2 separate regions of the Homo sapiens genome follow, and region 1 is linked to region 2. Evidence: fine-mapped expression QTL. A gene starts in region 2. The other region holds a variant in brackets. All regions are shown on one strand. Distances are between the middles of the regions. Region 1 overlaps TBC1D31 (TBC1 domain family member 31). Region 2 holds the start of TBC1D31 (TBC1 domain family member 31).

Evidence for each region. PIP is the estimated chance that this variant, and not a neighbour inherited with it, causes the effect.
Region 1: its variant is the best candidate, but not a certain one, in a credible set for the expression of TBC1D31 in whole blood (TOPMed, PIP 0.88).

Annotation. Positions count from the first base shown.
Region 1 is chr8:123,115,161-123,120,550 of GRCh38, reverse strand. It overlaps TBC1D31 (TBC1 domain family member 31), which reads right to left. Exons shown (of 22, transcript NM_145647.4): 11 at 363-496. Among named protein-coding and RNA genes, the nearest start is that of TRM-CAT1-1, 39 kb to the left of the region's middle. The variant C/G (reference allele first, on the strand shown) is at 3,017.
Region 2 is chr8:123,069,725-123,075,114 of GRCh38, reverse strand. It overlaps TBC1D31 (TBC1 domain family member 31), which reads right to left and starts at 2,408. Exons shown (of 22, transcript NM_145647.4): 1 at 2,269-2,408. The coding sequence starts at 2,345. RefSeq lists a silencer at 2,356-2,505.

The DNA of each region.
Region 1 (5,390 bases), 45 kb before region 2:
ATAGGCATGCACCACCACACCCGGCTAATTTTTGTATTTTTAGTAGAGACAGGGTTTCACCACGTTGGCCAGGCTGGTCTCGAACTCCTGACCTCAGGTGATCCGCCTGCCTCAGCCTCCCAAAGTGCTGGGATTACAGGCATGAGCCACCGTGCCCGGCCTCCAGATTTTCTTCTAAATAAAAAGGTTTACATATAAATGCTTCAATTGTCTATTTTATGTTTGATACCTTATTGTTTCACACTTTCGTGACTTAAAAGTAGAGACATCTAGAATTGTTAAATGTTGCAAAGGTGCAAAGACATCAGGAAAATGTATAAGAATCCATTCTTGATCTTATACTTTAACAAGTATTTACTTACTTATGAGAGTAGCAATAACTTCAAAACAGATGAGTTGGTTGTTCTGGAATAATTTTACAAATGGAAATGCCAAGAGTGGAAGATATGGTGTGTCACTAAAAATGACAGACCAGTGAGCTAATGCAGATAAGGTTCTGTGAATAAAATAACTTAGCATTAAAATTTATTTGAATAAATAATATCTTCACATGATAAAAATTTGATACAAAAAGTATATTTGGTGAAAATTCTTCCTTGTACCCCTATCATCTAGTTCACCTCTCCAGAAGTAACCATTGTTAAAAGTATAAATCCTTTCTTAAAAAACCACAAATGGTAGTATATTATAAAAATTGTTCTGTACTTTGCATTTTTCAATTAATGGTATCTTGGAAATAGTTTATATCAGTATATGCAGAACTTCCTTACATTTTACAGATGGATATGATAGCTTCGTACCGATACACCTTCATTTCTTTTTTTTCTTTTGTTTTCCCGAAACAGGGCCTTGCTCTGTCACCCAGACTGGAATGCAGTGGCATAATCATGGCTCACTGCAGCCTTAAACTCCTAGGCTCAAGTGGTCCTCCTGCCTCAGTCTCCTGAGTAGCTGGGCCTACAGGTGTATGTATGCCACTATGCCTGGCTAATCTTTCTTGCGGGTAGAGACAGGGTCTCACTATATTACCCAGGCTGGTCTCAAACTCCTGGGCTCAAGCGATCTTCCCGCCTCAGCTTCCCAAAGTGCTGGGATTAGAGGCGTGAGCCACTGTGCCCAGCCACCTTCATTTCTTTAACATGATCTCTATCGTAGGGCATTTGCTTTCAGTCTTTTATAAGCAATGCTGTGCTTAATGCCACTGTATGTGCCACACAGTGTGTATCATTCTTCACATGAGAATACAGACTTGGAAATTCCTAAAGTGGAATTGCTGAGTCAAGAATACGTGCATTTGCAATTTCGAAAGTCAGTGCCAAATTAGCCCCCACAAAAAGTGTCTATTTACGTTCCTATGACTCGCGTAAAGGGATGCCTGTTTTTCATACTCTTGGCCGCATATTATCAATGATTTTTAAAAAACCTTTAATCTAGGTGAGAAATGGTACTTCAACGTAGTTCCAATTGGCATTACTCTTTCTATGAGAAAGATTAAGCATCTTTTCATGTTTAAGAACCATTTCTAGGCTGGGCACAGTGACTCATGCATGTAATCCCAACATTTTGGGGGGTTGAGGCAGGAGGACTGCTTAAGCCCAGGAGTTTGAGACCAGCCTGGACAACAGAGCGAGACCTCATCTCTACAAAAAATTTTTAAAAATTAGCCAGGTGTGGTGGCACACGCCTACTACTCAGGAGACTGAGGCAAGAGGATTGCCTAGGTCCAGGAGTTTGTGGCTGCAGTGAACTATAGTCACACCACTGCACTCCAACCTGGGTGACAGAGCAAGATCCTGTCTCTAAAACAAAAAACTAAAATAAATAGAAAGAACCATTTTACCACTGTAAACTGTATATTACATTGTTTATCCATTTTTTTTTTTTACTGGCTGGTCCTTTACATGTTTATTTATATAAGCGCTTCATACATTAAAGAAACCAGCGTTTCATTTGTCAGGTTTTGCATATGTTTTTTCAGTTTTACATGAGTCTTTGTTTTGGAAATTATTTTTACATGTAGAGATTTTTATTCTTATCAACCTCTTCTGGATATGTCATACTCAGAAAGGCCTTCATTACCTCTGGGATTATAATTCTCCCACATGTACTTCTAATACCTGTACTGTTAATTTCCTTTTTTTAACTTTCTGTTTTGAAATAGTTTTAGATTTACAAAAAAAACTGCAAAAATAGTAGAGTTATTGTATACCTTTGACCTAAATTCCCCTAATGTTAACAGCTTGCAAATAGTACAATGATCAGTACTAAGAAATTAACACTGGCACATGCTATTCACTAAATTATGGACTTTACTCAGATTTTACCGTTTTTCCACTGATATCATTTTTCCGTTATTTCTTTCATTTCACCAACCCCAGATTCAACATTACATGTGTTTTGTCTCTCTAGTTTCTTCCAATATGAGAGTTCCTTAGTCTTTCCTTATTTTTCATGATGATGCCATTTTTGAGGAATATCAGTTATTTTCTAGATTGTTCCTCAATTTGGGTTTGTCTGATACTTATGATTAGAATGAGGTTACATATTTTTGGAAAGAATATCACAAAAGTGATGTGCATCATATTGACATCTTATTACCAGTCATTTTATTTATTTAATTTTTGAGACAGGTTTGCACACTGTTGCCCAGGCTGGAGTGTAGTGGTGCTATCATGGCTCACTGCAGCCTTGAATCTCCACACTCAAGGAATTCTTCCATTTCAGCCACAAGTAGCTAGGACTATAGGTGTGTGCCACCACGCTCAATTAATTTTTTTTTTTTTTTTTTTTTTTTTTTTGAGACGGAGTTTCGCTCTGTCGCCCAGGCTGGAGCGCAGTGGCGCGATCTCGACTCACTGCAACCTCCGCCTCCCGGGTTCACGCCATTCTCCTGCCTCAGCCTCCCGAGTAGCTGGGACTACAGGCGCGCGCCACCATGCCCGGCTAATTTTTGTATTTTTAGTAGAGACGGGGTTTCACCGTGTCAGCCAGGATGGTCTCGATCTCCTGACCTCGT[C/G]ATCCGCCCGTCTCGGCCTCCCAAAGTGCTGGGATTACAGGCGTGAGCCACCACGCCTGGTGTACTAGTGATTTTAAATGTGCTTACTTGGTTAAGCTGTTATCTGCTGAGTTTATCTACTACAAAATTACTATTTTTCCATTTGCCATTAATAACTGTCTTGGGGGAGATATTTTAAGACTATGCAAATATCCTGTGAATCCTAGAATTTTTTTTTTTTGGAGACAAAGTCTCACTCTTTCACCCAGGCGGAGTGCAGTGGTGTGATCTGGGCTCATTGCAGCCTCTACCTCCCAGGTTCAAGCGATTTTCCTGCCTCAGCCTCCCAAGTAGCTGGGATTACAGGTGCATGCCACCATGCCCAGCGAATTTTTGCATTTTTAATAGAGATACGGTTTCACCATGTTGGCCAGGCTGGTCTCTAACTTCTGACCTCAGGTGATCCACCCGTCTTGACCTCCCAAAGTGCTGGGATTGCAGGCGTGAGCCACCGTGCCCAGGCACTCCTAGAACTTTTGTCCAGTAATTTTAGCATCAATTGGTGGATCTTGCCTCCAACAATTATCACCGTGGTGTCCCAATAGTGATTTTCTATATCTCTAATTCCTTCTATATTTATTAGAACTGTCCCTTCTCCCTCATTTATATCTTTATTTATTCAATTATTTATGTCAGGATGAACTCATGGATATTTATTTTATTCTACAAGTTATAATTGATTGTTATTTATTTTGTTCCTCAAATTGTTCCAGCTTTGGCCACTGGAAACTTTTAGGTTGAGTCACGTGCCCTTGTGACATGCCCATCCTTTCAGAGCATTTCCTTACTTTATGGCACTAAAAGATGCTTCAGGTTCATCTTGTATTTTCCCCACACCAGTAGGTGCGCTCACTGTTACCAGGGTGTCATTGTTAGGCCTTCTCGGTAGAAAGAGCTTGGCAATATATGCATGTATACTAACTCCTGCATACATGCATATCTATATTCCTTTCTGTGTCTATTTATCTGCATATACGTTAAGAACTAACACTATCGATTCCAATCAACTACTGCAAGATTCATTCTAGCCCTTTTGCTTATTTATCTTCTTTCTCTGAGAGTAAGAAACCTGGCTCTCGTCTCTATTGAGCTATTTGTATACAAAAAGTGGCTTCTACACATAAAGTAGTTTCAGACTTGCTAACTCCACATTTATTTCTAATACTTTGATGGTTTTGTTTTTTTAAAAAGGAATTAAATCTTTAGTTCAAGCAGAATTTATATGGTGTAAGATATGAGGTATGCTTTCAACTTTTTCTAGATGGCTAGCTAGTTATTCCATGTCATTTACTAAATAACCTATCTTTTCTTCATTACTTTGAAATGACATCTTTAAAAACAAGTCAATTTTGGAATGTAGCTGGGTCTATTGTTAGACTCTGCATATCTATTTATATGTCAGCAGCAATTTCAATGCTTTATAATAGCTTTTAATATTTTTAAGGCTAATTCCCTTTCATTACTGTTTAAATATAAATTATTTTTCTGAGTATACTTTATAGTTAATGTGGCAAGCAGAATAATGAAAACTGTCCCCCTCCCCAAAAGATGTCCATGCTCTAATCCCTGTAATCCATGAAGATATTATTTTACATGAGATTTTGCAGATATGATTAAGTTAAGCACCTTGGGGTGAGGGCATTAATCCTGGACTACCTGGGTAGGTCCAATCTAATCACATAGGTCCTTAATATCAAAGAACCCCTTCCTGGTTGCGGTCAGAGGGAGATACGACTACAGAGGAATGGTTAGAGAGGTGCTTTGAAGACAGAAAAGGTGGGTCTGAGTCATGAAATATGGGAAACCTGCAGAAGCTGGAAAAGGCAAAGAAAAGGATTCTCCCCAGAGCCTCTAGAAAGGAATGTGGCCCTGCTGACACTCTGATTTTAGCCCAGTGAGATCCAACCCATGGTGAACTTCTGCCTACCAAACTCTAAGGATAAATTTGTGTTGTTTTTAAGCCACTACATGTGTGGTAATTTGTTATAGCAGCAATAGAGAACTAACATAGTTAATGGAGTTAATAAGCTATGTCAGACATTTTTTATTATTCGATACAATACTCAGAACAACCCCAGGAGGGAGGGATTAGCTTCATTACTGAGCCTAGGACATGGAATTCCAGAGAATGTAAGGAAATCCTCATTTTTGGAAGGGCTAGAAATCAACCTAAATACAAGAACATATTCTCCTAAGGATAGTACTTTCATAATTACAGAAGTTACATATTCAATGCTGAGTTGCCATCTTTTGACTGACTCTCAGACTGACAACAAATAAAGACTGATAACATCCAGTGTCGGTGAAAACACAGTAACACTGGCATTTCCCAGGG
Region 2 (5,390 bases):
CTACAAAATTACACAATCATTGTTCAAAATATGAAAAATATAGAAATACACTAAGAAACAAATACTCAATTATAATCCTACCATGTAGATGTAATCACAATAGTGACATTCTGCCCCTCCGATTTTTCATATAAATCACACGTAAAAAATTTATTTTAGAGCAACTTCCTTTCAGATTCTCACAGATTGCCTGACAGAGTTCCTCAGTTCTCAAACACAAGAAGAATATCAAATATTTACTGAGCACCAAATGTGTAAGACAACCTGTCTGGTAAATCTGATTCTCCCCACTGACAGCCTTAGTGATTAACTTCCCCAAGGTCACAGAGTTGGTAAACGGACATTTACTTCAACAAAATACATCTGACTCCAAGTCAGTGCTCTCTGCCCGTCTAAACAGCATGAACAATGGGTTTTAACGAACACAAAGATAAGCTATGCTTTAGTGGAAGAAGCAAACAAGACATTTGGATAATCAACCCATTTCTTTCACTTTTTGAATCTTGCACATATATCTAGATATTTTGTATCATCAAGAAAGAGAAGGCGAGTGGGCTATAACTTTTAGAATGTTTAGAGAATACCAGAGGTGGGAGTGGTATTCACACAAACTCAGAATTTGAAAATGAAAAACTTGAGGAATCCCCACTTTAGAGAAAATTTTTTATTCAATGTAGTTGAGGCAGCGGCATTGATAAAGAGGCCTGACAGTAACCAGGAACCAAACAAGCTGCTGGTAAAACGTCTCGCATCGCACTTTGGATATACAGAGTAGGCACTTAAAACTGATTTGTCGGCCAGGCGCGGTGGCTTACGCCTGTAATCCCAGTACTTCGGGAGGCCAAGGTGGGTGGATCACGACATCAGGAGATCAAGACCATCCTGGCTAACACGGTCCGTCTCTACTAAAAATACAAAAAATTAGCCGGGAGTGGTGCGCCTGTAATCCCAGCTACTCAGGAGGCTGCGGCAGGAGAATCGCTTGAACCCGGGAGGCGGAGGTTGCAGTGAGCCGAGATCGCGCCACTGCATCCGACCCTGGGCAACAGAGCAAGACTCTGTCTCAAGAGAAAAAAAAAATTCTGATTTGTCAAGAAGCAACCAAAGGATCAATAGAAAAATCACTAGAGGCCGGGCGCGGTGGCTCAGGCCTGTAATCCCTGCACGTTGGGAGACTGAGACAGGCGGATCACCTGAGGCCAGGAGTTCAAGACCAGCCTGGCCAACATGGTGAAACCCCGTCTCTACTAAAAATACAAAAATTAGCCGGGCGTAGTGGCGCGCGCCAGTAATCCCAGCTACTTAGGAGGCTGAGGCAAGAGAATCGCTTTAACTCGGGAGGTGGAGGATGCAGTGAGCCGAGGTCGCGCCACTGCACCCCAGCCCAGGCGACAGAGCAAGACTCCGTCTCAAAGAAAAGAAAAATCACTGCTAGAACAAGAAACACACTGAAACAGGAACTCAAGCAATTTCCGTGAAATCCTAGGGAATTAGGAGCAATAAGATCACTCTGCGTGCAGAAATCGAAATCCAAATGGCACCGCTTTGTAGCAAAGGCTTCCAGGGAAACAAGACAGGCTGAGCCTCAAACAGGACAGGTAACTGGGAACAGAATGAAAAGCAGCGCTGGCCGTACTAGAAGCCCCCCAGCAATGCATAATGAACGCCCCAGCCCCTACATACACGCCGATATGTAAACTCCAGAGAACCGGAAGTGTGTTTTGTTCCATCGCCGTCCCCAGCGCTTAGAGGCGTGCTTGGCACACAGTAGGAGCTCAACAAATAGTTGATGAATGCTTGTGCGTCTAAACACATCCAAGGATTTAAGGATGGATAAACTGCAGCCTTTGGAAGAGGCAGAATTGTCCTGCTCTTCCACCCCGCATCTCCTCCTGGAGTTCTGCTCCAGCTGCAACTGTTAAATACTCACTGAGCACCTACTACGTGCCAGGGACACTAGCGGGATACCGTGATCATAAAAGCAGGAGAGTCCCGGTACACAGCAAAAGCCGCAAGTTCCCAGGTCTGAGAACCACCGGCCTCCTCCTGCTCCGCGCTGTCCCGGACCAGACCCCCGCTCCCAGAACTCAGAAGGGGATCTCTGCGGACCCTGGCGTCCGGAGCCATCTGTTCCACCGCAGGTCATCCAACCCAGGGATGCGGGGCAAGGTCAGAGCCAGAACCCGGAACGCTGCCTGACGCCCGGCGTCCCCTCCTCGCCGGTCTCCATCCCCTCCACAGCCCGCGCCCTCCCGCCACGGCCTTTACCCGTCCCGCGTGGCCGGGGACGGCTTGCGGTGCCATATCTTGCCGCTCTCCTTGTTGCCTAGGTCAGTGCTCTGCATGGCGAAGCTTGCCCACGACCGCCGGCGGCCCGCTGGGTAACCGTCCCAGCGCCTTCCCGGCAGGCCCAGCGCTCCCGGCCCGGGAAATTTGAGCTCCGGCCGCGGCGGCCTAGGTCCAGCACCAGCAGGCCGTACCAACCCCCTTTCTAATAACAACCAATTGGAAGGCTGATCCCTCCCAAAATCCGCCCAAGCGGCCACTCCCTCTCTGGACAATGTAATCGACCAAAGACCTTCTCTTAGAGTCCACCTCTTTCTGAGCTCAGTCTTCCCGCCCCCGGACCCAAAGCCTTCTGGGAATCGTAGTTTTTTGCAGGTGGATCATAGACGCGAGGAATTGGCTTGGGAATTCCGCCCTTTGGGAGCCTCGTGGGGTTTTAGGCTCCCATCAGAGGCAATAAAACTCATTTTCTCCTGTGGTCCCTGCATTCCGTTCTAAATTGCTTTTAGGGATTAAGGAATTGTATAGAAATAACTAAGAGAAGCAAGGAAACAAGTGCAGAGAAGCAAGGAGACAAATACATTGAGAACTGATGGGTTCCTTTCATAGAACGTTCGGGCTCAAATGAAACTTACAGATGAAATAGTTCATTCTTCCTGACCTTTTCACCATCCTCATGGTTTTGTTTCGTTTCTTCAGTTTCGTAATCTGACAGGCCTTCCAGCATTATGATGTCCAGTCCACCAATCATGGTCCAGAAAAGCAATAATATCAACAACTGGCTGCCTCGACTTTAGCGTTCCTTTGATAAAAATTCACTTAGTGCCTCCGGAGCGCTTACTAGGTATGGGGCACTTTTCTACTATACCGAATATATCAACTCAATTAATCCTCGTAGCAAATTTACAAGTTAGGTAGTACTAATTATCTCCATTTTTAGTGCTCTATGAGGTTGTGCATTAATTTCCTGAGGCTGCCCTCACAAATTACCACAAACTTGGTGACATAAAAAAACAGAAATGTATTCTTGGGAAGTTCTTGAGGCCATACATCGGAAATCAAAGTGTCTGCAGCCTCCTTTCAGGCTCTAAGCAAGATTCCCTTACTTGTCTATTCCAGTTTCTGGGAGTTGCTGGCGTTCTCTGCTTGTGATCGCATCGCTCCATTCTCCGCTTCCATCTTCACACGTCTTTCTCCTCCTGGATGTATCTTTTCCTCTTCTGTCTGTTTCAAATCTCCCTCTGTTTTTCTCTTATAAGGAAACTTGTCATTGGGTCCATATGAATAATACAGGAATACAGGATGATCTTTTCATCTCAAAATCCTTAACTTGATTACATCTGCAAAGACCCTTTTTCCAAGTAAGGTAACAGTCACGGATTTTGGGATTAGTATGTTGACATATATTTTGGGGGGCCACCAATCAACCTGTTACAGGTAAGTACTAATATTATCCACTTTTGCAGACAAGGAAACCTTAAATCTTTCCATTCCTAGTCTCTATGTTGTTCTACAACAGAAAAATGATGTTAAAAAAATTATATGGTCGTGGTATTTGAAAAGTTCAAACTCTTGATCAGAAAAGCAAATTCTCAAAAAAAATACTAATGCAGGTTTTTAAACTTTATGTTGTTATCAAGGGGTGGCTCTGAGAGATCAGACAACTTGTAATGACCTATTGCAGAGGAAGCAACTGCAGCTCTTATTTTTATTTATTGGTTTTGAGATGGAGATAAACTACATGTATCAATGTTTGCATTATTATTTAGGAAACTTAGAATCTTAAATTTAAGATACAGTGCCTAACCTGAAACAGATTATTTCACAACATTTCTATCCCACACCATTAACCAAACAACCTTTTTTTATCGGAAGCAAAGATGAATCTGCTGAATGATTTTCTTAACTTCTCTAGCTTAACCTGTCTGCAGCTAAGCTAGTTTGGGCTGTCTCAGCCCATGTGGCCATCCTATTCAATCTCAGATATGTGATAAAGAGGTTTATATGTTAGATCTTCTGGACTCCCACTTTGTACTTATCTTTTGATTTAGGGGGCACAATTTGAAGGTCAGGCTGAAGAGATGTGTACCCACAGCTGCTAAAGTTCTACTCATTAGATCTCCCAGTTTTTACAACACTAATTGGTAGTCTCTTGTGATCTAGTTCCTTTCTGAATTATTAGTCACTCAATAACAGGTACATACTATTTATATGTATCTATCTGTATATATACAGATAAATAATGTACAGATAAATATATATACATATATATTTGGATATCCAAATGTATATATATGGATATACACACACACATGTATACACTTACAACACTAATTGGTAGTCCCTTATGTTCTAGTTCCTTTCTGAATCATTAGTCACTCAGTAACAGGTACATACTATTTTTATATATATATATATATATATATATATATATATATATATATATATATACATACACACACACATATGTTATATATATAAAATATATATACATATATAAAGGTATCTATATGTATAAAAGTATATAGTATAAGTATACCTATATACCTATTATATATATGGTATACTATATACCTATACTTTATACCTTTATATATAAAGGTATACTACATACCTATTTATATATAAAGGTATACTATATACCTATTTATATATAAATATACCTTTAGTATACAGTATACCTTTGTATAGTGTAAAGGTATACTATTTATATGTACTTTCATATGTATTTATAAAGGTACACAGTATGGACCTTTATACATTTGTTTGTTTGTTTGTTTGAGATGGAGTCTTGCTCTGTTGCCCAGGCTGGAGTGCAGTGGCGTGATCTCAGCTCACTGCAACCTCTGCCTCCCAGGTTCAAGTGATTCTCCTGCCTCAGTCTCCCAAGTAACTGGGATTACATGCTTGCGCCACCACGCCCAGCTAATTTTTGTATTTTTTTTTTTTTTTTTAGTAGAGATGGGGTTTCACCATGTTGGCCAGGCTGGTCTCGAAATCCTGACCTCAAGTGATCCACCCACCTCGGCCTCCCAAAGTGCTGGGAATACAAGTGTGAGCCACTGCACCTAGCCTATATATATTTATGTGTGTATATATATAAA